5 separate regions of the Homo sapiens genome follow, and regions 2, 3, 4 and 5 are each linked to region 1. The links come from fine-mapping of genetic effects on gene expression. A gene starts in region 1. Each other region holds a variant in brackets. All regions are shown on one strand. Distances are between the middles of the regions. Region 1 holds the start of OAT (ornithine aminotransferase). Region 2 has its middle 150 kb from the start of CHST15. Region 3 has its middle 37 kb from the start of OAT. Region 4 has its middle 47 kb from the start of OAT. Region 5 has its middle 150 kb from the start of OAT.

Evidence for each region.
Region 2: its variant is fine-mapped to the expression of OAT in monocytes (Schmiedel 2018, PIP 0.95).
Region 3: its variant is fine-mapped to the expression of OAT in whole blood (TOPMed, PIP 0.99).
Region 4: its variant is fine-mapped to the expression of OAT in whole blood (TOPMed, PIP above 0.99).
Region 5: its variant is fine-mapped to the expression of OAT in monocytes after R848 (Quach 2016, PIP 0.95).

Annotation. Positions count from the first base shown.
Region 1 is chr10:124,416,116-124,422,578 of GRCh38, reverse strand. OAT (ornithine aminotransferase) reads left to right here and starts at 3,656. Exons shown (of 10, transcript NM_000274.4): 1 at 3,656-3,706. RefSeq lists an enhancer at 2,467-2,981 and silencers at 2,955-3,614, 3,557-4,096.
Region 2 is chr10:124,243,032-124,249,494 of GRCh38, reverse strand. No RefSeq gene overlaps it. Among named protein-coding and RNA genes, the nearest start is that of CHST15, 150 kb to the right of the region's middle. RefSeq lists an enhancer at 1,466-1,966. The variant A/C (reference allele first, on the strand shown) is at 2,772.
Region 3 is chr10:124,378,336-124,384,798 of GRCh38, reverse strand. No RefSeq gene overlaps it. Among named protein-coding and RNA genes, the nearest start is that of OAT, 37 kb to the left of the region's middle. RefSeq lists an enhancer at 4,766-5,483. The variant G/A (reference allele first, on the strand shown) is at 3,917.
Region 4 is chr10:124,368,854-124,374,733 of GRCh38, reverse strand. No RefSeq gene overlaps it. Among named protein-coding and RNA genes, the nearest start is that of OAT, 47 kb to the left of the region's middle. The variant C/T (reference allele first, on the strand shown) is at 2,966.
Region 5 is chr10:124,263,541-124,270,003 of GRCh38, reverse strand. No RefSeq gene overlaps it. Among named protein-coding and RNA genes, the nearest start is that of OAT, 150 kb to the left of the region's middle. RefSeq lists an enhancer at 1-200. The variant C/TC (reference allele first, on the strand shown) is at 3,474.

The DNA of each region.
Region 1 (6,463 bases):
CTCTGTCTATCATTCCCAGTTCAGAACGTTTACCATCGATCACTCTCCCACTGTCCTCGATGCCTTGCTTAACTTGCTCCTTCCAGATCCCTGCCTTTCTGGACTTAAAGGAGGTTTGCTCTCCACCAGACCTAAATACCTGTCCTGACTTGGTGCACTGGGAGCAGGAAGGATGCGTTACACATGTTGCCCAGACTTCTGCTGCGAAGACATCTTTTTAGGGTGAATGTAATCTGGGAAACAAAATTTCTCCTGCAGGTTAAAAATCACCAAACACTTATTTTCTCTGTGTCGTTATCAGTTTTCCTCCTTGGCTGTCAGCTTGGATTTTCCTTTTTAATCATTTGAAGCCCAGGTATATGCAGACTATACTAATAAGAAGTCAGGACGAGTGGGACAATAAAGGAAGCAACGCAAAGCAAGAGATCTGCATAGCCCACCCGTTGTTTTTCTGGCCACTAAATACTAGAGAGTTGTCTGTATAAGAAAATCAATGATTCTTTCCTTTTTTAAAATACAGTTGCAGCTTTTTTAGATGACCAATGTCGCAAGATTTTTGTTCACATCTGTTAAAGGAGCATTTCTGGAACTTCTCCCTCCTTACTGAAGAGACTCATATGGGTCGGGCATGGTGGCTCATGCCTGTAATCCCAGCACTTTGAGAGGCAGAGGTGGGCAGATTGCTTGAGTCCAGGAGTTCAAGACCAGCCTGGACAACATGGTGAAACTCCATCTTTACCAAAAAGATATAAAAATTAGCTGGGCGTAGTGGCATGCGCTTGAAGTCCCAGTTACTCAGGAGGCTGAGATGGGTGGATCCAGGAGGTAGAGGTTGCAGTGAGCCATGACCATGCCACTGCACTCCAGCCTTGGCGCCAGAGCGAGACTCTGTCTCAAAAAACAAACAAACAAACAAACAAACAAACAAAAAGGACTCACATGGTGTTGCCTGATGATGTGAAACCCCTCGCAAGGTCAGGCACCTGAGGCACTCAAAGGACATTTGTCGAATGAACTGATGAAATGAATTTAGGTCTTGGATGTCTGTTATGAGGGCCATGGAGTTTTGCTCTTGTTGCCCAGGCTGGAGTGCAATGGCACAATCTTGGCTCACCACAACCTCCTCCTCCCGGGTTCAGGCGATTATCCTGCCTCAGCCTCCGAAGTAGCTGGGATTACAGGCATGCGCCACTGTGCCTGGCCTGAGGGCCACTCTTTATATCCTCAGGTTTTATGGTCCCCATATAGTTAATTACTTGAATTATTAATAGTTTTTAGAGACTCAAAAATCTTTGTAATGTGCACTTTACCTTTATGTTTCTAGATTGAACAAATAAAATACATACAAATAAAGCAGCTCTGTTTCTTGGTTGAAAAGAAGCAGCTTTCAAGTTCAGGTCTCTCTGTCAAGGCCACATTATGCTGAAAAACAACTCTAGTACAGAGACCATAAAATGTTATCATGCTTTCTGGACCTATTGCATTTTTCTGATAAGAGGAAAGAGATAAAACCCAGACATTTCCAGCAACTTCTTGCATATGAAACTCCTTAAAGAGCACCTTATCTGTGAGCCCAAAGACATTGTAACATACTTTATGTTACCCCTGGATCCTGGGTGTCATGTGCCTCTCCTGAACTCACCTGCTCCTCCTTGACAAGGCATAACTCGGGAGTCTTGGGCTCTATAAGAGTTCCAAGAGCTGGGCATGGCCCCACATACCTGCCCAGGTTTATAGAGCAGGACCATGGAGAAACCATTCCTTTCTGACCCCTTGGGCAGAATAACCTAACTTCCAGGAAGTTAATCACATTGTATTGGGTGCTGTGGAGGAACATGAAAGAAATAAAAGGCAATGTTCTGCTCTCAGTGAGTTCTGGAGAGCCCATGGCCACAACAGTCTGAGAGAGTGACCTTGGTATAGGGCAGATGGAGCCCAGGGGGACTGAATCCCTTTTGGTGTCTTGCTCTGCACATCTGCAGATACTGGCTCTGCTGTTCACAGCTCTGCACCCATATCACTTTCTTATCCCTACCATTTAGCATGGACTTTACTTTCTGCTTAGCTAAGACTTATCTTAGCCAGTTATGTATGTTGGATGTCTTCCAATTGCTCCCCTACCCCGTCTCCACCCTTTTCCACCCTGCTGTTTGTCCCAGGAGGCTGAGCTGTCTTAAAGGGCTCCCCTGGCCTCTGGCCTCCTAATGGCTTCAGCCCATGTGGAAGCCTGACAGGAGATGCTCATTGTCCAGCTCCTTCCCATGCAGTTGCTGATGACTTTGGTGACCAGATAGCCTTTCCCACACTCCTCTCTTTGGGTTCTGGAATTCTGGAAACCCCACTTGGAGGCCGTTGGGCCTAGGATGGATAATGGCCCTCGCTGGTGCATGAGACCCAGGTTATTTCTCCATCCCTTGTGGTTTACTTGCCTACATTGATTGATTGATTGGTTGATTAAGATAGATGGTCTTGCTTTGTTGCCCAGGCTGGAGTGCAGTGGTGCAGTCATAGGTCACTGCAGCCTCAACCTCCTGGGCTCAAGTGATCCTCCCACCTCAGCCTTTGGAGTAGCTGGGAACATAGGTGTGCCACCACACCAGATTAATTTTTATTTTTTTTTGTGGAGACGGGGTCTCACTGTGTCGCCCAGGCTGGTCTGGAACTCCTGGGATCAAGCAATCCTCCTGCCTCGGTCTGCCAAAGTGCTGGGATTACAGGCATGAACCACGGGCCCCCACCACCACGTTTTAGGAAATGTTCACATTGGAGTGTGCCCTCTGTTTCCAGCTGGGCCCCCGACTGGTCATTGTGGTCTAATGGAGTGTGGTGCCGGCAGCTGCCAGCGCCTGCCCTCTGAGAGGGGTGGCGAGGGGCACACAGGACCAGACTGCCCCTACTGTTGGATGACTGGGTAAGTCGCTTTCCTTCTCTGGGTCTCTGTTTTCCAATATTTAACATCTTGTTGTGGGCTAAGTGAAGTCCAAGTCCCTTCCGATTCTAACATGAGGTTGTCCCGGAATATCTATTTTGTGTTCTGAATTTAATAACCGGCTGTGGAGGGCACCACAGGCAAATCTGTACTGTGAGTGGGTTGCTGCCACTCAATTATCTGACAGCAGCTGCGAACAGGTGGGCAGTGTGTTTTCCATAGGCAGCGACGACTTTTGGAGGTGGATTCAGAGGCACAACTAAGCCGCGCGGCGCATCAGGGTTCAAGGGCATGGGGCTCCCGCAGCTGTGGCTGGGGCAGAGCTGGGGCTGGTCCCTCCCTCCAGGAGCACAGGGCGGGCGGTCCAGCCTCACGTCTCTCGGCCTCCAGCCACACCCGGCCCGCGCAGTGGGGGGCCCAACAGACTTTTCCTTTTCGGGCCTCAGTCTTCTCGTCAGCAAGGGCGGACAAGGACTCTTCTCGTCCCGCCAGAGGAGGCGACCGAGGGGCCTGAGCTCAGGTACAGGCCGGCGGGCTCAGGAGGCGCGAGCGCGGATCGAATCCGCGGGAGGAGCAAAGATCCTTGATGCGCGGCCGGAGGGCGGGGCGGAGGACGGGACCCACGCGATTGGTATCCTGCCCTCCGCCCCAGCCAATGAGCGGCGAGGGTGTCTTGGGGGCGGGGCAGAATCAGCCTTTAAGTTGCAGTGACTCTCCGGCGTCACTGTTGCGCTTCATAGACGCCGCGTGTACCCGGTTGTCCTCAGGCGCTGTCAGGTACCGTCTGGGCGCCGCTGTCCTGGGGCTCTGGTTCGGGCCCTGGCCGGGGTTCCCTGACAGCGGCGGGGGAGGCGGGCGGGCGCGGGGTGGCCGCGGCCCGGGTTCGGGGGATGCTGGCTGAGGGGGCGCGCTGGGCCTCGGCCGGGGAACGAGCCCCGCTTCAGCGGCCCGTTTACTCTGCGGGCGGCTCGGACCCGGGCGCCCTGGAGTCTCCGGCCGGCGCGCAGCTTCAGGGGGCAGGGGCGTGGCGACCCACGGCTTGCAGGCCGGAGTCCTGGTTCCAGCCCAGAGCGGCCGACGGGCGGGCGGCAGGGAGAGGCTGAGGATGTGGCAGCCCCGCCTGCCAGACCGGGCGGAGCCGCCGCCCCCTGCGCTCGCGGCCTGTGGAGGCCAGGACTCGGCCCACCCGGCCCAGAGACCCCGAGGCGCCCCGGGGTTCCGGGTAGGAGGCCTTTGGGCACCCTTGGTTCCTGGGGTTGGCGGGGAGGCTGCGTTCTGGGGACGGGGGAGCTGTGCAGTAAACCGGTGGCCCTGGTCACGCGGCGGGGGCGCTGATGCAGCCTTGGAGGGCTGGGTCCTCCCGGCCTGCTCCTGCGCCCTGCAGATCGGCCTGCCCATCGCTCCCCTCTTCCAGCCTATGATTTTTTTTCTCCAGCCTCTGTCGAAATAAAGAAAATTACGGAAGCAGAACCTTCCTTACAGTAACGTGCAGGTTAATTAGATGGTGGGGGATGGGGGGGCAACAGGACTTTCAGCATGAAAACCTCCCGTTGGGGGCTTTTTGCAAACCCTGCTGAGCATCAGTAAATGGGCCTGGCCAGTGCGTTTCCTCGATCGCCTTCCCGGGCGGGACGGGAGGGGTCATTGTCCGCCCTTTGCTGGCGAGAGGACTGAGGCCCGAAGTCACCTGGGCACTCGCCCTGTGACCCACCGTCTCCTTTTGTCACTCTACATCTTACCTTTTCGGTGTTCAGTTTTACCTCTTAGATAAATTACGGTGATAAATTAAGGGCGAACAGACAGTGACTTTGGAATGAAGTGGCTTTACCTTAAGAAATGACTAATGTTCAGTTTCCAAATTCTAAATTTCTCCTTCTGGGATTGAAAGGGTTTCTGTGGATAAGCTAGTTCTTTCAGTTAACCCCGGAACTGTTCTTTAGATTGTAATCAATCGCTCTTAGCCATGTGAAATAACAATAGACTCCTTTCATTAGAATATCCTGGTTCTGTCTTTAGATGAATCTTTTCATAAAAACGAGCGTTAAATTAAAAAGCTTATTTTTAGCCCGGCACGGTGGCTCACACCTGTGTAATCCCAGTATTATGGGAGGCCCAGGCAGGCGGATCACCTGAGGCCAGGAGTTTGAGACTAGCCTGGCCAACATGGTGAAACCCTTTCTCTACTAAAAATACAAAAATTAGCCAGACATCGTGGTGCGCGCCTGTAATCCCAGCTACTCGGGAGGCTGAGGCAGGAGAATTGCTTGAACCCGGGAGGCAGAGCTTGCAGTGAGTTGAGATCGTGCCACTGCACTCCAGCCTGGGCGACAGACTCCGTCTCGAAAAAAAAAAAAAAAAAAAAAAAAGCTTATAGTTTTGGGTTTACAGTTTTTCATGGTGTTTAAGATTAGTTTTGCATCCCCCCCCCAAAGAAAAATCCAGTATAACTTTAAATAGTAAACATTTTTAAAAGACATTTTTCCCTCAAAGCAGCTGTCTTAATATGTATTATCCCCATAGCGTGCCTTTATTACAGTTATTTGTGTGCATATTTTATGCCCTTTAGTGAGTTCTTGAGGACCTTTCAAATCTCAAACATTTACAAATAGTGATGAATGCACGAATTTGGATGTGTGTGGAGGATGTGCTGTAGTTGACCCCGGTCCTTTCTCAGTAGTAAAACTAGTTGTTTGCCAATGATGCACTTGGCTTGAATTTTAGCCAGAATACTGATTACGTCAAAGAGACTTCTGTTGGTAGAACTTTTTTTTTTTTTTTTTTTTAAAGGCCTGTATTTGTGAATGGTTACCTCAGGAAAAGTAAATATTTGTCAAAATAGCAAGAACAAATTTACTCCTCAAGTTGAATATTTTAAGTGGCTTTTGGACAACTTTACGCCGACTATTCTTTTAGAGTAAGAAAATAGTTTTTAAGAGTATAGGCTAAATTAACTTCAAAATGCAGCCTTTTGTGGAAATTCTACTGTAGGTATGTTCTAATGTAGATGGATGGGCTAGATGGAGGGAGTAATGGTAGCCTGAAGGACCCTGTTAATTACGTGGATAAAACCTTCAGTGTTAGAATTCTAGCTTGCCAAGAGCAATTTGTTCTCATTTCCAGGACCTGAGTATGGGCGTCAGGTAGATGCATGATAGCTGCCTGGAACACATTATTTTGACCTTTGAAGGCCATTAGATCTAATGAAGTAAACTCTTGATGAAGAGATGAGTTATTCTAGATGAGGTCAGAGAGTGAACACCCCCTCTTAGAGTTAGACTCAACCTGGTCAGGGATAGGTGATCCCATGGTCTTGATCACTTGCTACCTTGACTCCCTCAGGAGTCCTAAGTAAGACTGACCTCTTTATCTGATAAAGGCCCACAGGATGCCCAACCTGGGCTAGGTTCTAGGAATGCAAAGTGAATTTTACTGTTTTTTAAAGGAGCTTAGAGTATAGACTTATAGGCATAAAAACAAGTGGCCTGCAGTGTTAGGACCCGTTACAAGTCTGCACAGTCCCTGGGAGTCTCTAGG
Region 2 (6,463 bases), 170 kb after region 1:
TGGGAGGTTAATCGGGATAGGGATGGATGGCAGGAAATGGCTGAGGCTGACTGTGGCTGGACAACCCCTGGCCAGTGTTCCGCCCAAAACCTCAGGGAACTCGCCACCCCATCTCTGCACCTATGCCCCCAGGTCACACACTGCTGCATAAGTTCTGCCAAGCCCCAGGATACCCTGAGCCAGCTGTCCACTCTGATCGGGGTGGGGGTCATGGCTGTCATTTCCACCAAACCCTCACTTAAAATCAGTGGGGGAAAATCAACTACCAATGAAGCATATTAGAGTCACAGTGCACCAAAAACGTGGGCGAGAGGGACGTGGACACTTCAGGATGCTCCTGGCGGAGTTTCTGAGCCAGGGCTTTTCAGGTGACATGGTGTTTTATCAGGTGCCAAAACCTGGGTGTTTTGATATCTCAGCCCTTGGTGAGGCTTGCGGGGGTGGCAGCCAACACCCCCAGGCTGGGAGTGTCCAGCATAAGCAGCCTCAGTGTACCTGAGTGTGCTGCAGAAATAGCCATTTTCTATGTAAGGTGTTGCATTATTTTACCAGGGCTGTGGCAACAAATCACCATAAAGTTGGTGGCTAAAAACAATAGGAATCCATTCTCTCACAGTTCCGGAGGCCGGAAGTTCAAACTCCAGGTGTCGGTGGGGTCACGCCCCGCTGGAGGCTGCAGGGAGAACCCCTTCTAGCCTCTTCACCTTGGGGTGGCTGCGGGCAGTCACCCTTCCCTGCTTGTGGCCACCTCACTCCTGTCTCTGCCTCTGTCTTCCCCTGGCCCTCCCCTCTGTGTATCTTCTGTGTCTCACAAGGACGTGTGTCACTGGATTTAGGGTCCATCCTAAAGCAGGATGATCTCATCTTGAGGTCCTTAAACTACATTTGCAAAGAAAAAAAAAATTCCCAATAAGGTCACAATCACAGGTTCTGCTATCACATGGACGTGTCTTTTTGGAGATCACCCTTCAACCCACTCCAGTGGTGTTGTGAAAGGCTGAGGGATGTCCAGGTCGCCTGGTGACCCTGGCCAGCATCTAGTGTCAGGGGCCCACTTGGCCATGGAGGGATTCCTGGCTCTACTGTGTGCATGACCTTGAACAAGCTGCTCAGCCTCCGTCCACCTCACTCTCCCTATCTGTGAGATGGCAAGTCCTGGGCGTGTTGTGGGATGACCTGAGGCTGTGTGTCAAAGGGCATGGCACACACAGGGAGAGGACTTGCCCAGTGTCCCTGGGGAGCAGGCATTTGATGTGGATGTGAGGACCCAGTCCCTAGTCCAGCACGCATGCCAGGAAGCTGTGCTGCACCTGAGCTGAAGGCCTGGCGTGTCTATAGAGGAATCCAGTCTGTGGTCCCACCGCCCATCCATCCGTCCATCTGTCGGTTTGCCCGCTCACTCCTCTCTCTCTCACCCACTCACTGCCTGCGCAGGGCATGGAGAGCTGTCCTTCCTTACTGGAAGGAACCCACACTTGGAGTGACAGACACATCCAGCAAGAAAGCTGTCTCCTTTCTACCCCTCTGGGCCCTGCCCTGGGGACTCTTACTGACCATGGTGACGGGGCATGCTGGCTTGGGTGGGAGGCTGGGTGTGCGCTGGTATGATCTTTGAAATCATTGTCACCTCCTCTGGGGCAGATGTAAGGACTGGGCCCAAGCTCGAGCTGGCCAGCCTGTGGACTCCAGGTGGAGCACACCAGGCAGCCTCCTGGAGCCAGAAGGGAAGTGTGCAAGATGGTGGCCTGTAGGGTGGCGGCTGCTGTGTAAGTCACTTATTCTTTGACTAAACAATGACTGAGGTCCTGCTGACTGACTGACTGACAGGCTCTGTGCTTGGCCTGGATGACCAAGACCCTGTCCCTACCCTTCAGGAGATCAAGGCCTCATGGTGGGAGCAGGCTTGTCTTGTAAACTGAAATGACAGAACAGCGTGAGAACTGATCATGGGATAAGTACAAGTACAAAGTACTTTGAAAGGCTTCATGGAGGAGGGGGCATTTCACCTGGGTCTTGACCAATGAGTAGGAGTTTGCTGAGTGTGTTAGGTGTCTATAGCCGCATACCAAATTACCGCAAAACTTAGGTGCACATTTATTTGCACACATTTATTTCACTATTCTGTGGGTCAGGAATCTAGGGGCAGCTTACCGAAGAAGTTCAGGTTTAGGGTTTCTTATGATGATTTAGTCAAGGGGTTGCTGGGGCTTCAGCCTTCTCAAGGTTTGGTTGGGGAGGTCATTCACATACACATCCCCATAGGGCTGGCTCATGACATGGCAGATGGCTTCCCCCAATGTGGGCCATCCAAGAGAGGGCAAGACGGAAGCTGCAGTCTTTTTATAACCTAATCCCAAAGTGATGTTCTGGTACTTCTGCTGGGTCCTACACATGAGAAGTAAGTCACTAAGACAAGTCCACTTTCAAGGACATAAATGCCAGGGGGTGGGGATCACGGGGGGGCACTTCAGAAGCTGCTGGCCCCTGCAGTGGAGGAGTGCATGGTGGAGAGCTGGCACAGTGACCACAGTGACCTGTCTCCTGTTGTCTCCCACTGCAAGGGCCAGCATGAGGGTGAGTGAGAAGAGGAATGAGAAGTTTCCAGTTTGGGAACTAAGGAGATAATAAGGTAATCATCATAATGGAAGTATCTAGGTTTTTTTTTTTTTTTTATGTGTTTTTGAGATGGAATCTCATTCTGTCACCCAGGCTGAAGTGCAGTGGCACAATCTCAGCTAACTGCAACCTCCGCCTCCCGGGCTCAAGTGATT[A/C]TCCTGCCTCAGCCTCCAGAGTAGCTGGAATTACAGGTGCACACCACCACATCCAGCTAATATTTTGTATTTTTAGTAGAGATGGGGTTTCACTGTCTTGGCCAGGCTGGTCTCAAACTCCTGACCTTAAGTGATCTGCCTGCCTCAACCTCCCAAAGTGTTGGGATTACAGGTGTGGGCCACCTTGCCCGGTCTTGGTTTTTTTTTTTTTTTTTTTTTTTTTTTTTAAGTGTGTACTATGCCAGACACTGTTCTAATCATTAACATAAAAAGCTCTCATTCAATCAATCCTCCCATGGTTCTCTATGAGGAAGGTCCTATTCAGAGCCCCATTTTACAGATGAGGAAACTGAGGCATGAAGGTGTTAGGCAGGTGATGGAGTGGGCTCTCAGCCTCCAAGATCCGGTCCCTCAACCTCGGGCTGCACTTGGCACTGGCCTCAGAGCCGGGGCTCCCTGAGGTCCGGCGGGAGGGTCGGAGGACTTGGGGACAGCCCCACTCAGTGCATCTGCAGGCACAGCATGGCTGAATGCAGACCTCTCCAAGATCACTCCAGGTTGGACAGAAGGTGGATTTATCTGCTGTTTTTCTGTTGTGACGAGTCAGTGACATTCCCAGCAGTGAGGGGCACACATCCTGCATCAGCAAACACAGGAAGCCATCCTGTTTGGCCTGAGGACGTGCTCTTCGGCCTGGAAACATCCTCTGGTCCTAGTTCTGCAGCTGAGGTGCCTTCCTGGGCAGTGACCATCAGGCGCACATCCCCTGGCTTGGCTGAGGGGAGGAAGTTTGTCTGGGAAGGCTCTTGGCGCTGCCATTGGTACAGCCTGGAGCTCAGCCTGTGCTTCCTGCAGAAGCCCCTGCAACCCCCAGCATCCTCCTGCAGTCCCTGCATCTGTCCATCCTCTGGCTCTGAGAGCAGCCAATGGCAGAGGGAGGAGGCCCCACACTGTTGGCTGTGTCCTTTTTTTTTTTGAGACAGAGTTTCACTCTTGTTGCCCAGGCTGGAGTGCAATGGAGCAATCTCGGCTCACCACAACCTCTGCCTCCCGGATTCAAGTGATTCTCCTGCCTTAGCCTCCAGAGTAGCTGGGATTACAGGCTTACACCACCACGCCCAGCTAATTTTGTATTTTTAGTAGAGATGGTATTTCTCCATGTTGGTCAGGCTGGTCTCGAACTCCTGACCTCAGGTGATCTGCCCCCCTCAGCCTCCCCAAGTGCTGAGATTACAGGCGTGAGCCACCGCGCCCAGCCCGGCTGTGTCTTTTCCACTTTAGGGAGGCAATCGGCAGGGAGCCTCCCTGGTCACCCGGCCTGTGCAGCACTGTCCTTCCCTGGGCCCACCATCTACCTGCTCTCCCCAGCTCCCAAGTAGATCAGAGAAGGTCCTGATGAGGAAGAGAAGACCGCTGGCTGGGCAGGGCAGCTTCCTGTTTGTATTCTGGGGTCACCTTCCTGTTTGTATTCTGGGGTCACCTTCCTCAAAGGTGCAGTGCACTTGGAGCCTGAAGACCAGGTTTCTGGCTCCAGCTAGCAACATTCTGCTGGATGACCTTGGCAGGTTCCCTTCTCCGAGACCCTACTAGCTCAGGGACCGCATGTCCTGATGGGAAGCCCTCCTTCCCATCCAGCAACAGAGCTTCTCCAATTCGAGCCTGCCTGGGAGTCGCCAGGCTCTTCTTGAAGTGCAGATTCTGATTCCGCTCGTCTGGGTGGGGCTGAGATTCCATGTCTCTGCTAAGCTCTGAGGTGGGGCCTCTGGACTCACCTTTGGAGTGTTAAGGGATAACAGGATGAGCGCTGGCACGGTGGGACATGGGGACATCCAAGCCTGACCCCTGCCTGTTCCTTCATTCACCATTTCCAAAGCACTTCCTGTGTGCCTGTTGCTCTACCAAGCTCCAGGGGTCCAGGCAGGGGGCTCCCCACTGCTGGTGGGGGTCTCTGGTCAACTGTCCAGGACAGCCTGGGTGGTGAGTGCCGAGATGCAGGGGCCTGCGGGAGCTCCATGGGGTCACCTAGCTACAGCGGGGAAAGGGGACAGGAGATGGGTGGGGGCTGGCGGGCAGTGAGGCCAAGCATCACAGGGTGGGCACGCGCCCTGGCGTGTTAGCAGAAAAGCAAGCCCTTGCCCAGGGCAGATGTGTGGGTGTGAGCCGGGCATAGAGGTGGCGGGGCCACATCCTGGGGGTCTTTGTAAACCACACTAGATGCTTAGACTCTGCCCTGCAGAAGGCCGGAGCTCCAGGAGTGCTGGAGACCAGCAAGGACATTCACCTTGCCTTCTAGACAAGCAGTGGGGCTGCCCGGCCCACCCTCCCCGGGCAGAGCCGGACCTGAATCCAGATCCCCTTCCACCGAGTTCCCAGCAAGCGCTGCTCAGTCACGGTCAAATGGACGATGGCTGCATAATGAGAAATAACTCAGCCCATCCCGGGAGGGGACCCCACGATGCCAGAGGCGTGTGAAGATGGTGGAGGACATGGAGGAGACTGTCACTTGGCAGGGCCTGGGAGTAAAGAAGATCGGCTGGGGCTTTGGGCTGTGTCCTGGGTCAACTGGGTGGTAGAGGTGGGTACGATTCCAGGCCGGGTGGTGAGGTGTGAACGGAGCAGAAGAGCTGAAGCTCCTCCCCAGCCTGTCTGTGGAGCAGCTGCCCTACTCTGAGCCCCACTGTTTCAGCCCCGCCAGTCACAGTCACAACCTTCCTGCGCTCCGCTGTTCCGAGGATGCGCCTCTGTCTCTCTTTGGTCTGAGGGGTCCTCTCGGGCCAGGGCTTGCCTGACTTATCACCGGGGTACAGTGAGAGGCCCAGCCCACACTAGCGCTCCTGTAGTTAATCATAATGATAACGCCAGTGCCCTGCGTCAGCTTCCTATCATGCGAGGAACAAATTACCACAAATGTAATGGCTTAAAACAACATGATTTTGTTATCTTGCAGTCCTGGAGGCCAGAAGCCCCAAATTGGTCCATTAGGCTACAGTCAAGGTGTCAGCAGAGCTGGTTCTTTCTAGGGGCTGCAGGGAAGAATCCGATTCCTGGTGTTCCCAGCTGTTAGAGGTGGCCCTCCTTGGCTCGTGAGCCTGCCTTGCTTGGACCTCTGCTTGTCCTCACTTCTCCTTATCTGACGCTTCTGCCTCCCTCTTGTAAGGACCCATGGGATTACATTGCACTGGGCCCACTGGCTAGTCCAGGATAACTGCCCCCTCCCCCCACCCCGGTCTCTAGATCATTGATTTAATCACATCTCTAAAGTCCCTTTTGCCATGTAAGGGAACATCTTCACAGGACCTGGAATTAGGACGTGGATGTCTTTCAGGTCCAGCATTCTGTCCACCCATGTGCTGTGTCAGGCGTGGTCCTAACTAACTCAGTCCTTCTAACAATGCTGTGAGGTCGGTACTCTTAGGATGTTCTTTTTACAGATGAAGAAACTGAGGCACAGTGGGATCAGGAGATTTGGCCAGGTATGCACAGAGCCCCACGACTGGTCACATGTCTCCAGAGCCTTAACGTCTACCCTTTGAGTGTTTCCCTGACCTTAGATGAAGGGAGGCCGTGAGGATCGGTCCTGAGAGAACTGAGAGAGCCCCGCCTCACTGCTCTTCTGGGTCAGTGGGGGGGTGGTGTCTGAGTGCTTTCACTGTCCGGGCTTGAGTTCCAGCCTACCTGCAAGTGGTTGTGGA
Region 3 (6,463 bases), 38 kb after region 1:
AACCAAGGGCACAGGCCTGGGGCTGGCAGGCTAAGGCTGCCGGGGCACTGTTTGGTCCCCATCGTTCTCTGTCCTGCCTGTGGGGCAGCACACTGGCTACGGGGCAACACATCCGTCCCTGTCATGCTGCCGACTGGCATCAGGCAGGGGAGTTTGGGGACATCCCTACTGCAGGCCCCTCACCTCTCACTGGGGCCTTGGCCCTGTGAATTCCTGTGTGTGAATTATTCTGTGACGAGGATGAAGGGAGAGCTGGGATTCCCATCGGTCCCCTCTCAAGGACTCAGAAGAATGCTCTTAGACAGGTGAAAAATGGAAAAGCTTTGCTTAGCTAGCAGATTGCTCCTAAAGCAATTCACAGTTTGGATTGAAAAAGTGGGTTGCTGTTTCTTAGGCTGTCCCTTGGGATCCTGCCCTCCGAGGCTTGGCAGGTTTTTCATTCTGGTGAGAGAAGTCTTGGCTGGGGTCCTGTGAGGCTGAATGGAGCCCAGAAGGGCCACCAGGTGTCCTGATTGCAGAGGAATTCAACTTTGTTGGTTCCTTGCCTCTGCTTTGGTTTTAAATGAAGGATCAGTGGCCAGGGAGATTCTGGAAATAAATGTGAGTTCCTCAGCCACCGGAGAGCTAGCCCAACAGCGGCTTACACCTGTAATCCCAGCACTATGGGAGGCTGAGGCAAGAGGATCGCTTGAGCCCAGGAATTTGAGATCAACCTGGGCAACATAGTGGGACCCCATCTCTAAAAAAAAAAAAAAAAAAAATTAGCCAGAGTGGTGGCATGCACCTGTGGTCTTAGCTACTGGGGAGGCTGAGTAGATGAGCCTACTGAATCAGCCAGCAGATGAAGACATGTACCCTCCACTATCTTGAGTTATTCATGAGGTAGGAGGATCACCTGAGCCCAAGAGATTGGGGCTACAGTGAGCCACGATTGTACCACTGCACTTCAGCCTGGGTGACAGAGTGAGACCCTGTCACCCAGGGTCGAAAAAAAAAAAAAATAAAGACCCTGAACTATGTCTGTCATTTTTAGGATCGCAAAGACTCAGAGTGATAGCTGTTGATTCCACATGCTGGCCAGAGGGGCTGGCGGTGTGGGTGAGGTGCCTGCCTGGGGCTGCACATGCAGCTGACTCAGTGGTACATAGACTGTGCTTGAGTCGGGAGAGGGCCCTCAGTCAGGCAAGGTGGCCAGGTTGGGGTGTGTCAGGGAGTTCAGCTAGATTTAATTTTATTTAGAAAAACTTTCAAATGAGATATTTATTGAGTCTGAGTGTCGTGGAGCAAATTCATGCTTCTTTACACAAATAAAAATAATATTTGTGACTGGCAGCTGCTTTGTAAGTCTGTAGAGTGGATTCCTGTGCTTGGGGTGGACCTATTTGGTCAGTGGGGGCTTAGAGTTTTTTTTTTTTTTTTTTTTTTTGAGACAGAGTTTCGCTCTTGTTGCCCAAGCTGGAGTGCAGTGGTGTGATCTTGGCTCACTGCAACCTCTGCCTCCTGGGTTCAAGTGATTCTCCTGCCTCAGCCTCCTGAGTAACTGGGACTACAGGCATCCGCCACGCACCTGGCTAATTTTTTTTGTATGTGTAGTACAGACGGGGTTTCAGCATGTTGGCCAGGCTGGTCTTAAACTCCTGGCCTCAGGTGATCCGCCCGCCTCAGCCTCCCAAAGTGTTGGGATTACAGGCGTGAGCCACCACGCCTGGTCCCTTAGGGTTTTATGATGTCTGTTTTACAGACAAGGGAGCTAAGAGTCTGCCTAGCACCAACTTCACATGATGTCGGCGGCAGAGCTGGGGCAGGGTTCCACCACTCTGGCCCTCTGTGAGGCTAGAGGTCTTCAGTCTTTGGAGCACTCCAGGGACATGTGGCCACTTTTACAACATCTGTATGCCTTGTCTGGGGTGGGCCCGACACATACGTGTGTATATATACATATATAATTATTATTTTTGGAGACGGGGCCTCACTCACTCTGTCACTTAGGCTGCAGTGCAGTGGTGTGATCATAGTTCACTGTAACCTCAAACTTCTGGGCTCAATCACTTCTCTCGCCTCAGCTTCCCGAGTAGCTGGGACTACAGGTGTGTGTCATCATGCCTGGCTAATTAAAAAAAAATTTCTGGCCGGGCACGGTGGCTCACGCCTGTAATCCCAGAGCTTTGGGAGGCTGAGGTGGGCAAATCACAAGGTCAGGAGATCGAGACCATTCTGGCCAACATGGTGAAACCCCGTCTCTACTAAAAAATACAAAAAATTTAGCCAGGCATGGTGGTGGGCACTTGTAGTCCCAGCTACTCTGGAGGCTGAGGCAGGAGAATGCCGTGAACCCAGGAGGCAGAGCTTGCAGTGAGCCGAGATCGTGCCACTGCACTCCAGCCTGGGTGACAGAGCAAGACTCCGTCTCCAAAAAAAAGAAAAAGAAAAAAAAATTTCTTTTCTTTTTTTTTTGAGAAAGATTCTTGCTCTGTCACCCAGGCTAGAGTGCAGTGGCATGATCTTGGCTCACTGCAACCTCTGCCTCCCTGGTTCAAGTGATTCTCCCGCCTCAGCCTCTGGAGTAGCTGGGACTACAGGCATGCACCACCATGCTCGACTAATTTTTGTATTTTTAGTAGAGACAGCGTTTCACCATGTTGGCCAGGCTGGTCTCGAACCCCCCTGACCTCAGGTGATCTACCCGCCTCTGCTTCCCAAAGTGCTGGGATTATAGGCATGAGCCACCACACCTGGCCAAAATTTTTTTTTTTTTTTTTTTTTTTAGAAATGAGGTCTTGCTATGTTGCCTAGGCTGGCCTCAAGTAATCCCCCCTTCTTGGGCTTCCAAAGTGTTGAGATTATAGGCGTGAAGCACTTCCCCTGGCCTACATGCATATTTTAACAGACTTTCCAGGTGCTTCTGCAGCATAGCCAGGGTTGAAAACCCCTGGAGCAAAGTTTCAGTGATCAAAGCAAGAAGATTCAATTGGATCAGCAAGTCGATGAAGAGATGTACCGTCCACTACCTTGAGCTAGTCTTGACTTCCTCTAGTGACAATTGTTGACCGGTTTGTTTTCCTGGAGTGCACCAGACCATGCAGTTGGGATTATGTGTTCAGTGCTGACCCACTGCCAGCATTGGGAGTTGAGAATCCATAATTCAGCCACCTTTATTGAGTACCTGCTGTGTATGAGGCCAGGGATGCTGAGGCGGGTACTACAGAGAGAACCCTGGATGCCGGGACACTCATTTTAGCTTTACACATTCTGTGGCTCTGCCAGGGGGCACCCATCTGTGGCATTGCTGGGGCAGGGTGATGACAGAGGCTTCTGGGTGCTTCCAACTCTAGATGGGGTCTTGTCTTTACTGTCCTTGGGTGTCCATTCTGGCTCTGACATGGTTGGCTGGGAGCCCGGGACACCCAGCTAACCTTCCGTGCTCAGGGTTCTCTCGGTCAGTCCAGTTTGCATTGATCATAGTCCATAATCCCCTGAATGCGACATCAATTAAACAGTGTCCTCCACAGGAAGGGCTTTGATTTCTTTCCTCAGCTCTGACGGGCGGCTTTATTGATGTCGCTGCTTCTTTCCGATAGTGCTTGCGAAAGCCGTTCCTGTTCTCCACCGCGAGAGGTGCCTCTTGTTTCCAGTGATTTATTGCACTTACAACGTTGATGTTTACAAAGAACCGCATATTTATTCAAGCACAGAAGTTCGTTTCCCGCAAATACACGTGTGAAGGAAAACCAGATGAGTCAGAGTGTGGGAGGCCTTCCCAGCAGGATGGATGTTGGTTTCCTTGATTTCCCCAGCACACCTGCCCCTGCCTGGCTGGGCATCTTGAATCAATTTGCAGACAACTGCCAAGAAAAGCTTGAGGTGCATTATTTTCAGAAATTGATGAGCAATTCGAAATCAAACCAGGGTCTATTGG[G/A]TGTTTACAGTGCCAGGATCTGAGCTAGGGGCCAGAGAATGAAAGCTAAGAAAAGACAGATAGCATCTCAAAGTCGTGGGGGAGGAGAGACAAAAACAGCAAAACTCATACAAGTCAGGATGAAGAAGTGGTTGGGACAGAGCTGGGGATGAGCACTGAGGAGCTGGGGCATCAGAGGAGGAGCTGGAGTGTCAGGGCAGTGCACGGAGTTGCTGTGGAATCGGGAGGAGCACAGAGGAGCTGGGAGGAGCTAGGGAGTCAGGAGAGGAGCACAGAGGAGCTGGGGAGTCAGGGGAGAAGCATGGAGGAGATGGGGAGGAGCTGAGGAGTCAGAGGAGGACCATGGAGGGGATAGAGAGTTGGGAGGAGCAGAGAGGAGTTGGGGAGTCAGGAGGAGCATGGAGGAGATGGGGAGTTGGGAGGAGCACAGAGGAGATGAGGAGTCAGGGGAGGAGCATGGAGGAGATGAGGATTCAGGGGAGGAGCTGGGGAGTCGGGAGGAGCACGGAGGAGCTGCGGAGTCAGGAGAGGAGCATGGAGGAGATAGGGAAGAGCTAGGGAGTCGGGAGGATCACAGAGGAGATGGGAAGGGGCTGAGGAGTCAGAGGAGGAACGTGGAAGAGCTGGAGAGTTAGGGGAGGAGCACGGAGGAGCTGAGGAGTCAGGAGAGGAGCACCGAGGAGATGGGGAGGATCTGGGAAGTCGGGAGGAGCACAGAGGACACAGGGAGTCAGGGGAGGAGCATGGAGGAGATGGGGAAGAGCTGGGGAGTCAGGGGAGGCTCACGGAGAAGATGGGGAGTCAGGAGAAGAGCACAGAGGAGGTGGGGAAGAGCTGGGGAGTCAGGGGAGGAGCAGGGGAGTCGGGAGGAGCAGGGAGGAGGTGCCATTAAATCAGGCCTTGCAGCCTGGGAGGAGTGTGACCCTCAAGGGAAAGGGAGTCAGGCCCAGGGGTTGGTGGTGGGACATGGCTGCTTCTGCTTGGCTGCAGAGTGGGCAGAGTAGATTGAAGGGAGCCAGCCAGGCAAAATTCCCCGGGACCTCAACCTTTGAGGACACAACAGCACCACAGAAAATAAGCCGAATTGGCAAAATGTAAAAAGACCCCGCCCCCATCACCGTGCAAGGCTCTGGGAAGTGGAGAGAAATCAACAGCCTCTCAAAGTGCCTCAATGGCAGTTGCCGGGCTGGAAAGCCCCATGTCATCAAGCCTTTACCCTCCACACAGTGGAGGCAGCACTGGTTCCTTCCTGCAATCGACAAATACGTTTGAACAAATAGATGAAGAATATCAGTTGGAAGGTACCCAATTATAAACCTTCCTGGATACCTGCTGTGAATCTGGCTCTTAGAGTGGGGCACGTGCACTGAGCTATGGGAAACCCCTTTGGTCCCCAAGCCGAGGGCCAGGAGGCACTGGATGGCCACCTGCCACTCATCTGCACTCCTGCAGTGAGGGGGCTGGGCAGGCCCTCCACGGCCTGTGCTGTGGAACTGAATGGACTGGGGGAGAAGCTGGATCCACTATGGGCCGTCCTGGCTGGCACCAGCGGCCCCTGGGGCAAGCCTGTTGCTCCCTGCAAGGCCTTCTCAGCAGCAGGGAATCTCCTCCCTCTTCAACAGTCTTTTCACTGGACTAGGACTCCTGCCACCCTTGGAAAGGCCAGGGAGGGGATTGTACACACAGCGCCTGGGATTTTTGATACTTAAAGGGGGCGAGACACTCCCCCCTCACCGTTCTTGGCAAATGCCTCCTGAATGAGGGATGCCTGCCTGCCAGCTCCCCACGCTGAGATCTCTGCTGACAATCGGGAACAGCCAGCGGGAGGCTAGAGATTGATGACTAAACCTCTTGGAAGTTTCAAGCCTCAGGTACGCCCTCGGTGTCAGAAAGGCCAAGAGAAGCAGCCTCGTTGGTTGCCTACGGAATACCTCCGGGTGCCAATGGGCGGGCCTTGCCCAGCTCAGACTCCCTCGGCTGTGGCTTTGCCCATCAAGTAGATCTGCTTGGAGTGAACTAGGGGCTGAAGGAAAATTGATATAAAAGTAATACATGTTCCTTGAAAACCTCTTAATAATAGAAAAATACACAGAAGGAGGGTAGAATCATCCATAATCCCGTCTGGCAGATAGAGCTCCTGAAGATGGCTTGCAGCTTTCTTTCCGGGCCTTCTGTCCATATCCTTGCATAACTATCCTTCCAAAATTGGGCACTGTGGGCACCATGGAGTCTGGGAGGACTGAAGTTAACTTACCTTCCATGGTTACTTGAAGGGTAACATTCTTGGCCACCCTTGGCTCTGCAGATGTCGAGCAGACAGGCCCTCATGCTGCGTGGGTGGGCAGGTGTACTGTCCACCTGCCCCTGGTGAGCCTGGGTGGGCCAAGAGGGGCGTCAGCACCACTGGCCACACCCAGCATCTTCTTTGCATCTGTCCTGACCCTTTTCCATCTGACCTCGTCTACATAACCTTCTTCCTTCTTGGACTCAGGCCTCCTCCATCCCTCCTCACTGCATTCTCCCTCCCGTGAAGGCTGATTCTTTCCC
Region 4 (5,880 bases), 48 kb after region 1:
GAAGTGTCCAGGCACCAGCTGGGGGAATTATTTTCAGGTAGAACTCCCAGTAGGAAGTGATCCCTCTCTCCCAAGAAGGTTTCAGGCAGAACAGCATAGGATTTAGGCAGACAAACCTAGTGCACACCTTGCTTTCCCTCTTTCTAGATGTGCTGTCTTCGGCAAGTTGCAAACCTTCTTTGAGCCTCAGCTTCTTCATCTTTAAAACTGGACAATAATGTTATCCATGCAATTGGCTGTTGTAAATGGGTGCTTACAACAGTACCTAGCCCACAGCACTAAATGAGTGGTAGCCGTGGAAGAATTTCTGGCAGTGAAGATTGGTTGACAGTGGAATGATGCATTTAAAAAAGGGTGCAGATGCTCTTTCAAAACTGAGCATCTCCAAAGGTATCAAGAGCTCTAAAGACATCCATGACCTACCTAGTCATTCCATGTTTAGAAATCCATCCCAGGAAAGTAATTTACAATACAGTCAAAGACTTGTACACAAACATGATTTAACAGCACGACTTCTAAAGTGGGAAATGGGAAACAAATTTAATGTCCAACAGTAGAGGATGGCTAAAAAGAGTTATGAGAAATCCTCATTTTGGATTGTTAGACATGACAAATCAGGCCTTCAAAGAATATTGATGATATGGAAAAACGACCACAACACAGTGTGAAGTAGAATACAAAATTGTGTGTAGCCAGGGCCCCAGACTGAATCTAAGCTTTATCTAGCCCTGAGATTGAGGCCTGGGCATGCCTGGCAGGCTGGGGGCACTCCTGGCAGCCACCTGGAGTCTACTCGCATCCTCATGTGTCCTGGAAAAGAAAACCTGGCAGATTCTACCCTGGGATCCATGCTCAGCAACTCTGTGTTTTCTCACTGAATCCTGCTCAGAGACTCGATGGAGATGAAGAACCCAGTTTACACCAGCTGAAGGGAAAAGAAAACTGACTGGCTGATTTTCATGCAACTTCAAGCCCAGCTGGACCCAGGAGCTGGAAGGTGTCATCAGAACCCCCTGTCCCCAGCTGGCATTTAGAGACTGGGTCACCCCAAGAGGCACTCTCCACATCATGGCAGAGATAGCTGCCTGCAACCAGGATGCACCTCAACCTTCACACCCACTCCACCCGAAACAGTTGGTCCTGTTTAACCAGAAACATCCTGGGGACACTTAGATGAGCCTCTTGGAGACCCATCCCCATCCCTGAATGAGTCACGAGTGAATTCACCCCAAGAAAGAACAGGCCCTATCACTAGGAAGGAAGGAAGCATTTTTGGGGAGAAAACAAATCCTGAGGTTGATCACAAATCCTCAGTATTATTATTCTCATTTCACAGATAAAAGTTCAGAGAAGTTGAGGAGGGGAGAGAAAAAAACAGGAAAAAAAGTCGGAGAGGCTAAATAATTCGCCCAAGAGCCCCCAAAGAGCCAGGATCTTAACCCATGACTGTGGCCGCTGAAGCCTATACTCAAAACCACTCTCTCACTTTGCTGATGGGAAAGAGGAGAGAGCCAGCAGCCCAGCCTTGAAAGTGGGAGGTCACCTCGAGACCAGTTCCTGGCTCACTCCAAAGCTTCCCACCAGAATCCTAGAGGAGCTGCAAGCAAAAGTGGGAAGAGCTGTGTGCACGAAATTGCATGCCAATCAAGGAGCATAGCTGCAAGCAGCTGCGGCTAATTTCTGCTCATTAAAGCAAACCAGAAATGTACTAAGGGATATCAGGCAGCTCACAGGATCTCTGCATAGGTTGGACAACAAGGTTTGAAGGCTATGTAGCCTGGAAATAATGTTCAAAATCACTTTGCAGGACCAGGGGAGATACCCTGAGACCTCTGATGGGTACTGACACCCTTATGTGCTGCTGACTCCACCAGTGTAAGGACTGGCCATCACTGCTTCAACCCATTTCTGGAAGCCTCTAGAACTGACAGTGGGTATCTCTGCTACCCCAACACCCCCAACCTGGCATCCACACAGTGACAGACTTTTTGTTACTGGCTCTCACATGCATCTAATTGGCAGAACCCTTATCAAATGTCTGTTTCCCTGGCTGCAAGGGAGGCTGTGAAGGTAGGTTTCTGGCATTTTCAGGCTTTATAATGGGTTGGGGTTTCTCCCTTCCTCTGATACATGAAGTGGGGAAGGGGTATATCAGGATGCTGGGTGGCCAAAGAGAATGACATGTGTCACTCAAGTCTCAGTTGGAGGAGAAGAACCATTAGAGTGTGTGCGTGTTAATATGTATATGGAGTATTAATTTCCTAGGGGTGCTGCACAAACTGGGTGGCTTTGAGTAACAAGCCCAGGGCCATGCTCTCCCCGGCTTCTGGTACTTGCTGGCAGTGCTCAGCATTTGTGGTCTTGCAGCTATGCCACTCTCATCTCTGTCTCTGTCTTCCCACTGTGACTGTGCCTTCATGGGGCATGCTCCTCTGTGTATGTGTCTGTGTCTTTTCTCCTCTTCAAATCAGGACACCAGTCATATTGGATTTAGGGCTCATCCCAATCACAGGATCCTAACTTACAACTTATCTACATGTAAAGACCTTGTTTAGTCTGTTCTCACACTGCTATAAGGACATAAACTGAGACTGGGAAAGGAAAGAGGTTTAGTGGACTCACAGTTTCACATGGCTCTATGTCCTTACAGAAATATATAGGCCATGGAAGGAATCAGAGCCAAGCAGACCCTGCCTCATCAAACTGCCCACACAACAGAAAACAGAGTCCAGTTGGACATTCCTGAACCCTGGGAGGCCATCAGCACTGGGGCCTCACAATCATGGCAGAAGGTGAAGGAGGAGCAAAGGCATGTCTTACATGGTGGCAGGCAAGAGAGAAGTGCAGGGGAACTGCCCTTCACAAAACCGTCAGATCTTGAGACTTATTCACTATCAAGAGAAGAGCACAGGAAAAACCCGCCCCCCACGATTCAATTACCTCCCACTGGGTCCCTCCCACGACA[C/T]GTGGGGATTATGGGAGCTACAATTCAAGTCGAGATTTGGGTGGGGACACAGCCAAACCATATCAGACATTAACCCTTAATTACTGCAAAGACCCTATCTCCAAATAGGTCACATTCACAAGTACCGGGGTCAGGACTTGACACATCTTTCTGTGGGACATGATTCAACCCCCATCACCCTCTCTGCTTTTCCATCTTCCCTGTGCTTCCTGGGCTGCCTCCCAAATAAACTACCTGCATCCAAGTTCTTAGCTCTGGTTGTCTTCGGGGGAACCCGAACTAAGACAGAGGGCAAAGATTCCAAAGAAAACAAAGAAGAGGGAGCAAAGCCCAGGGATGAGGAGAGTTAGGAATCAAGTTTCCTTTGGCCATTGGTGAAGAAACAAGTTCAAGTTTGGGGGGACTTCCAGGAGATGGAGGAGCAAGGAGGAGCTGGAGAGCCTCAAGCAGAAAGGAGCTTCCATTTTCAGAATCTGGGGTAGAGGAAGCAGGGAGTGGGGAGAGCTGGGGAAGCTCTGGCTTGGGCTGGGGCCACATCTGTGAGGAGGTGAGCAGAGAGAGGTGGAGCTAGTCCTGAGCCTGGGGACCTGGGTAGGGAAGCCCAGACCTTCAGGTTGGGTCACGTACCCCAGCTGATTCTGGCTGTGGCTGGGGAAACTGAGGCCCAGAAACGGCCTTGGCTCACAGCAGGGACTGGAATCCTCATCTTGATACTTCCCGTTTTCGCTTTGCCCCCCGCTGCACTGAGGGGCTTCCCTGGCAGGGGTGTCAGTATGCGGGCAGGTCTGTCGAGGCTCTGCTTACCAAGTCCACCTGTGCTTGGACCCTGGTGGAGAAGGACAAACCCTATGGTCAAGCACTGACAGTCTCCCCTGGTTTGGGAACATCCACGTGGACTCCGTTTTCTGTTGTGTGCGCAGTTTGATGAGGAAGCGTCTGCTTGCCTCTGATTCCTTCCACAGCCTATACAATTTCCGTCAGGTTTATTAATATAAGAGGGCAGCATCCTGTGTGCACAGATGACTTGTTATATTCACAGCTCTTGGGATGCTCCCTGCCCCGCAGCCTCGAACCCTCGATCCTGTCAAAGCCTGGAGCCCTTGGCTGCCCTGCCTGGCCAGTGTGGCTCCTTTCCCTGAGCTGTGATTTCAGCCTGGCCCTGGCCAGTGGCAGAGTCCATGGGCACATGGGGTGATTTGGTGGTGGGCAGCGGCCTCCACCTGAATAGGGCTGGTTTTGTCAGAAAACACCTTAAAATCACTCTCCGAGAAGAAAATATGTTTGATTTGGGGGCAGCAGGAAGAGTCTGGTGTCGTTTACAGTAGTTATATAGTTTTCAGCTCCTACTCTTTAAACCCTCTGCAGGAAGTAGAACAGAATTATCTGAAGCCTCTTTTCTGTTCTGCAAGAGTAGAATTTGTAATCATTTTGCCCGGACCAAAGCAGACACTTCTGTGAAATCCGCAGAGTTCACAGTTGTGGATGGAATTGCTCCCAAATGAATGGGTGTTTGAGCCACTCTATGAGTTCATTGTGGCTTCCATGGCAAATTACCACAAAGTTGGTGATGTAACACAACACAGATTAATTATCTTATAGCTCTGGAGGTCAGAAGTCCAAATCTGTCTCACCGGACTAACATCAAGGTATCAGAGGGCTGGTTCCTTCTAGAGGCTCGAGGAGACAGTCTGTTTCCTGCCTTTTCCAGCTTCCAGAGGCTGCCCTGGCCTTGGCCCCTGGCCTCTTCCTGTGTCCTCAAAGAGCATCTCTCTGGCCTCTGCTCCTGTGGTCGTATCTCCTTCTCTGCCTCTGAGCCCCAACTCTTCTCTCTTATAAGGACCCCTGTGATCACATTGGGCCCCTGAATAATAATCCAGGATAATCTTCCATGTCAAGATCCTTAATGTAATCACACCTGTGAAGTCCCTTTTACCATATAAGGACACTGTATTAGTCTGGTCTCATGCTGCTAATAAAGACATACCTGAAACTGGGTAATTTATAAAGGAAAGAGGCTTAATGGATTCACAGCTCCACGTGGTTGGGGAGGCCTCATGATCATGGCAGAAGGCAAATGAGGCGCAAAGGACACATCTTACATGACAGCCGACAAGAGAGCTTGTGCAGGGGAACTCCCCTTTATAAAACCATCAGATCTCATGAGACTTATTCACTATCACGAGAACAGCATGGGAAAGACCCACCTCCATGATGCAGTTACCTCCCACCAGGTCCTTCCCAGGACATGTGGGAATTATGGGAGCTACAATTCAAGATGAGATTTGGGTGAGGACACAGCCGAACTATATCGGTCACATAGGCTCAGTTCCAGGCATTAGGACTGGGCATTTTTGGGGGCCATTATTTGGATACCACTGCCAGCAAAGCCCTTCCCCTGGCTCAGCCTCTCCAATCCCCCTCACTGCCCTGGGAAGTGGAGGGAAAGGGTCTGCGTCCCCATTTCATGGAGATGTCCAGAGGTTGTAAAGTGAGTGTCAGAGCTCAGTGGAACCAGGGTGTCCCTATTCCAAGTCCAAAGCTGTTTCTGCCAGCTCACACAAACCCACCCTGTCGACAGGCTCCTGCCCAGTGACCAGGCATGTGGTCACTGGCTGCCAATGAGGCCCATGTTTTAGACCTGGTGCCACTATCTGCCTAAGGTTGCACCGTCAGTAAGTTTCTTAACCTCCCTGTGTCTCAGCTTTCTATAGATATCAACATTCTTCTCTCATAGGTTATTTGTGAGGGAAAAACATAATTCTCTAAACCACTTAATAAATGTTGGATATGTAGTAGCTGTCACTGTTATTAATAACAATAGGGCAGGCTCATGCCTGTAATCCCAGCACTTTGGGAGGCCAAAGCAGGAGGACTGCTTGAGCCCAGGAGTTTGAGACCACCCTGGGCAACATAAC
Region 5 (6,463 bases), 150 kb after region 1:
GGAGAGCAGAGGACCCTCCTGTTCAGAAGAGTCTGTCATCTTCATCCTGTGTGCAGCTCTTAGTACAAGTGGGGCTGGGATCTCTCCCCACAGCGGGCAGTGAGGTGGAGGTAGGAGGTAATAATAATCACAGGAGCCTTTGTGCCAGTTACATCACTGAAGGGTCATTATAGCGTTTATTCTCACAATAATTCCTTGATCCAGGTATGGGTATCATTCCCATTTTATGGACAAGAAAACTGAGGCTCAGAGATGTTAACTGCCCAGAGATGGGCTGACTCTTGAGAGTGAACATATATTGAGCACACACTATGCGCCAGGATGGCGCTTTGCATCTGTTACCTTGCTGGTCCTCACAACAGCCCCGTGCGGTAGGGCACTTTTGTTGGCAGTTTGTTGATTGGATGATTATCACAAGAAGAAGCGAGCCATGTTCATAGGAGGCAAACCCGGGCTCCTGTCTGGCTCAGGAGAGGCTCCAAGAAGCAGCTGAGGGGCCGGCCTCTCAGGCACAAGCTGAGGCCCATAGGGAAGACAGCATGGAAGGAGGTGACCAGAGAACACGCTGGCCTCTGCTGGAGAAGGAGCGCAGAGGACCCTCCTGTTCAGAAGAGTCTGTCATCTTCATCCTGTGTGCACTCTCAGCACTTAGCGTCGAGGTAAAGATGAGTGTCAGAGGGGCCACAGAGGCAGACACCATGGCCCTGTCATGTGGGGCCATGTGTGCTTCTTAGGAATTTGGACATGGCCCCAGGGGAGCGGGCCCACTCTGTATTTGGGAGGAGGCTCCCGTGGCAGCTTGAAGGGGAGAGGAGCAGGCAGAGCTCTGCCTGGGGGAAGCTTTTGTAACAGATGCTCCTTGCGGGAGATGATGGGCAGAATGGAGGTGGTGGCTTTGCATCTGCACATAGTAGGCACTCAGTAAAAGGTGCCTAGTGACAGGAAATGGGGAGGAGGGGATGTGTTTGGGAGCTGTTTAACAGGTGGCACTAATAGGACTTGGAGATGGGAGTGGCAATGGGGTGTGTTATGAGTGGGAAGGCAATGATGTTCATATTTCTGTCTGGGGTAACTGGGGAGATGGGAGTGGCTTTCCCTGAGATGGGGACACCTGAGGAAGGGCAGATTTGGGGCCAGGAAGGTAAGATTCACTTGGGACATATTGGGTTCAACTTGTCCATCTCTACCCCGCTGGGGTCATGGTTTGGGGAATAATTGTCAGAGCTGGGCTGGCCTCTGGAGGTCTTCCCCCAGCCCTTGCTTTCACTGGTGGGAGAAGGGACTCGAAAGCTGAAGGCCAGGCAGCTACTGATGCCTCCATCTCCGCCCTGACCACCTGCAGATAAATCACCAGTGGAAACAAGTTTCCCCTCAAGGCTTCAGGTGTTTCCCTAATTTGTTCCTTAGAGCATTGTCTCAGGAACAGCATCCGGAGACACCTGTTTTTCTATGCGGATGTTTTCCACCTTGCATCCCAAGGAGACAGACTCCTCGGAGCAACCTTGGTAATAGCCAATCAAATGGCTTGCACTGCCAGTGCTCAGTCTGTGCTTTAGAAAGAGGAGATGTCCTTGGAAAAAAGGTTTTTGTGGTCACATAAGTTAGGGACAGTCTGGACTCTACTCGTTAAACAGGGCTCTGTGCTGCAGGACATCTCAGGGCCTTTAGCCAAGTCAGTCTTCAAGAGGGGCCTCCTGTGTGCAGGGCTTCTCAAGGACATTAGACCAATGAACACCTTGTCCATGGAGCATCTGTCTGTCTCCCAGACCTGGTGCTCTGGGGTTGTGTTTTTGGAAACAGTTGTCGGAGCTGGACTCACCTCTGGGGGTCTTGCCCAAAGCCCGTCATTTCACGTTGGGAGGGAGAAAGGAATTGCCAGACAGAGCCAGCAGGGGTTCCCTGGGCTCAGGACCTCTGGCCAGGCTCCTTCCTCCTGTGCAGGCCTCCTGGTGCCCCTGCCTCCTGCTCGGGGACACTTGTGTCCAAATTCCTGGGTCCCCAGAGGGACCAATTTTTCTTTCCAATGGGCTCTTCTGGAAGGGGTTTGGAAGGGTGCACTGGTCTGGGCTGTGCCCCCATCTGTGTCCAGGCCTCTGATGTGGACCTGTGGGAACCTTCCTTGCTGTACCTCCAGCCTCAGAGACAGCCATGTCCTAGCCCTGAGTCGGATACTGAGTAAAAAGCAATCATGACCCCCACATTCCCTGGCAGGGCCATTTGCAGGCCTCAGAGGGGGGATAATGAGTGTCTGGGTGGTGACTGTAGTAACAGGAACTCTGTGGGCCAGTGACAAGGCCCAGCTCTGGCCTCTCTGGGCCTCCCTTAATAGCCTGTGGATTGCAGCATGGATGGCAGCCAATGCCATGGGCTCTGACAGCTGGAAGCGCTCAGTGTCGCCAGCCTAGGGGGACTGCACTCGCTGAAGTGAAGCTTGAGGCTGGCAGAGAGAGGCCTGCATGTCAGGAAACCCTGTTCATATGACAGATTTGCTGTGTGACTTTCCTGTAAGGACCACCTCCCAGGAAGGACACAGGAGCTTCCTTGATTCCTCTGGCAGGTTTTTATGGAGAGCTGACTCAGCGGCAGCCTCGCGTGAGGCCCTGTGTCCCTGTGGTGTGCAGAGAGATGGCATCTTAGTTTGGGTTCCTGGAAGGCCAGGCCTGAGACTTGGGTGCAGGTGGGCTATCGGAGCAGATCCCAAAAAGTGGAGGCATGGGAGTGTGGAGAGTAGGAATAGGAGGAGGAAACACGAACACAAGGGCTGTTGAGATTGCTGCTGTGGGCCCTGAGGCTTGACACCATTGAGACCTCCTGGGTAGGGACAAAATTGTCCACTGGAAGGGCAGAGGACAGCTTACCCACTGGCTCACGACACCCCTGGTCAGAGGTTTGCCCTTGGGGACTTCACCCCCACACTTCCAGCTGTGTGTGCTTGGCCTGGGCAGACTCCCATGTGCCTGGAGACACGCACGAGGCAGGTGTGAGACCAATGCTTTCAGGGCCAGGGAGTGTGAGGTCAGCTAGCGCCTGCCACCAAGATGCTGAGGCAGAGGTGGGCTCAGGGGTGGGTGCCTCGAGGGGCACCGGGGGTGTCTGTCACATGCCGTTTGTCTGTCCCTAGGGCATGGTGAGATTGGAGGGCCTCCAGCTGGTGGAGAAGAGAGTACGGAGTGAGGCCTGAGCCTCCTGTCCCAGGGCGTGTCTCCCGCCCGGCTTCCATCGCAGTCCCTTCATTACCCTTGCACGACACCACGGTACCTTGAGCAGACCAAGGTAAAGGGCTTACTTCTGGAAAATGTGGTCAGAGGAGTCCAGCTCCCCAGCACACCTTCCTGGCCCGAAAGCTCTCTGGAGCTCTAGAATGTCCTTCCAAGGTGCTGAGTAATGATTTACTCATTGCTGTCAGATAGGGAAGTCTTACCCAGCTTCTTGAAAAACCAAGTTAGAAAATCAAGCTGGGCTTTTTTTTTTTT[C/TC]CCCATAGAAGCTGAATTAGTAATAGAATTTTTAAAAATGTGGTCATGAAACTGTTAGTCTAAACTTGAACATGAGCCCTGCTAAGGTGGCTGAAATGGTTCCTGAAACCTGGGGGCTGCCGGGCTGGTGGAAGAGCTCCTCCTCCCTGTAGGGCATACCTGCGAAGCTCCTGGCTGGGGAAGCTGCACCGCAGGGGATGTGCATTCTCAGGACCCGGTGTACTCCTCGTGGCTCTTGGTGGGCAGTGGGCATGGTTTCTGGAGGCGCCGTGGAGTGGCACTAATTCCGTCATGCAGGGCTGTTCCCCAGCTGAAGGAACCTGCTCTTTCTGCACAGCCAGGTTTGATGTCAGGATAACTCGAGTGGAAGTGAATGTCCTTTCCTGTCTTCTAGGAAGGTTCCCCAGGGAGGCTCCAAGGCAGAGGTGTGTCCCGGGTCTGGGGGAGGGTGGAACAGCACCACCTGAAAGCAACTGGGCCTGGGGCAGCCACTGGGGAGCCCGGATGTTCTGGGCACTGTGCTGGGGCTGGGAGTCAGGCAGGGGTGGGTATTGGAGAGCAGGGCTGTGGTGGGAAGGACAGAGCCGGTAGGGGCAACAGCAGCAGGAACAAGGTCTCTAGTCCAGTGGGTCAAATTCCAGGTTCCAGAGCCCTGGGTGGGAAACCACCATTGCCCCACCAAGGCCTTGTCCAGCCTTGGCTAGGCCAGTGGTTTTCAGCTTAGCCAGGGACCCAGCAGACACAGGCATCAGATTTAGGAACAGCACAGGATGGAGAGAGAGCATTTATACTGGAAGCCAGAATTAGGATTAAAACAAGATCCATTGACTGGGGAGAGGGACAATCTTGGCAGAGGAGAGGATTCAGGAAGAAGGGGACAAGTCCTGTAAGGGGTCTACTGTGTGAGTGCAGGGGGCTGGGGTGGGGAGGTGGAGGGATGGAGTCAGCAGCCTAGATAGCACATGGCTGGGGGTCTGCATACCCACACCCTCCACTGGGAGGGCCCCAAGGCCATGTCTGGGACGTGCCCCTCCTGGGCTACCACTGATTGGATGAGAGAGGGGGCTTGATCTAGGGGGATCCAATCAGATTCAAATCCAGGGAATTTGGGATTGGATCAGAGATGTTGGTTGGTTGGATGGTGGCACTGGAATGGAGACAGCCATGCACATCGGAGTGTTTGAGGCAGGTGCAGGGGCAGAAGATCTGCAGGAGAGGGAGGATGAGAGCCTGAGGGCCCGAGAGGGGGTGAGGATCTGCACAGCCCTGGGTAGGGCGAGTGGGGGTTGAGAAGGCAGTGGCTCGAGAAGGCAGTGGCTCCTTCCAAGCAGAGTCTGGTCCCCACTGCCCGTTCCCACACTTCCTCAGTTCTTGGGTTCCTTGATGTGTTCCCATGCCGGTGGTTTAAGTCCACTGTTGTGAGCTGATCTGAGTAGGCTTCATTTACTGCACCTCAACAGGCCCTGGAGAGCCGGGGACCTCACTGTCATGGTGGGACAGATGCCTACGGGAGGAGAAGTGGGCAGGAACAGGGCCCGGGTGGGAACGAGTGGGCAGTACTGCTGCCCTCTGCGTGGCAGGACCACACTAGATCCCTGCAGCCCACTTGGCACCACCTCTGGAGAAGGGCAGCTCAAGCTGGTGACTGCTCCGTGGAGGGTGGCCCTGGTGTCGAGGGACCTGCCCCCCGGCAGCGAGGAAGGACTGCAGGGTCCCACCTTCCACCTGGAGAGAAGCTGAGTCAGTGAAGGACGGAAAAAGCATGTTCGATGTTTGAAGACTTGTTAGAGGAAAAGAGGAGACTGTTCTGTGCTCTCCAAGGGTCTTGGGTTCCAAAAGTCGAGGGTCCACTGTTGGCTCAGTGTAGGGGAAACCTTCTCCTGTGCCAGCCTGCTACAGCACTGGAGGCCTTGGGCATAGGAAGCTCTGCATTTCTGCAGCTGAAGGACCACACTCCGAAGGGTGCTACAGGGCCTGCAAGTGTGGCATTGATGGTGTGGACTGGACGATCATAAAGAACACCTTTACCTGCAGAGAGGACTCAGGCCCAGGGCAGAGACAGCCCCAGGCCATTACGGTGAATGTGAGTCAACTGCAGAATCAGATGCGCCCCTGGCCCACAGGACAGGCACATGTGGCCCCTGATCCAGATTGAGCCCGTGGAGCAGCAGAGGCTGAGAAAGAGGAGGAGCAGAGATGTGTCTCTGGGATGAGGCAGCTGCAGTAGGAGGAGAGCTCGGAGAATACGCAGAGATATTAACAAGGGATTTTAAAGACATTTTGCATTGAGATGTGCAGGGTCATCTCTTCCTTTACCTCCCCATGAACATTTCAGTGAAATCTGCCAGACTCACCAGTGCTATTGGAGTTGGACTTCTCTCTGGGAGTGGGTATGTTTGGAGTGGGAGGGGGCCCTTGGGTGGGAAACCCAGTGACCTCTTAGGGGGAGAGCAGGACAGGCCCAAGGAGGCTCACATGCTATATGGGTTACACACCTTGTTCCTTTCTTTTCTCAGGGTCTGGAACGAACTTCCTGTCCAGGTGGCTTTAGGTGGTCCCTATGGGTCACCTCCCCGCCAACCTCAGGATGCCCTTCTCTTTGCCAGACAGCTGCGGGTAGACTCAAGCCACAGGTGCCCCTCTGAACCCCTTCACCAAAGCCCGACCCAGAGCTGTTCCTCTGCAGTGAATGTCCCACTGCCCCGTGTCTGCTAACTGGAGATTGAGAAGGAAAGGAGGCTATTTGAGAAGTTGGCCTAAAATGATTATGGTCCCTCTCCAGGGAGACAGGTCACAACATGGGAGAGCATTCCAGGGGTGATAGAAACAGGCCTCAGTGAGGGATGGAGCAAGGAGAGAGGAAAGAGGGAGAGGAGGCGAGGGGAGGGAGAGAGAGAGAGAGAGAGCAGTGGAAATTCTTGCCTGGTGTCTTTCCCAGAAAGCGACCTGTGTGGAATTTCTCTGTGGAATCAACCCATTAGCTTAGCTTG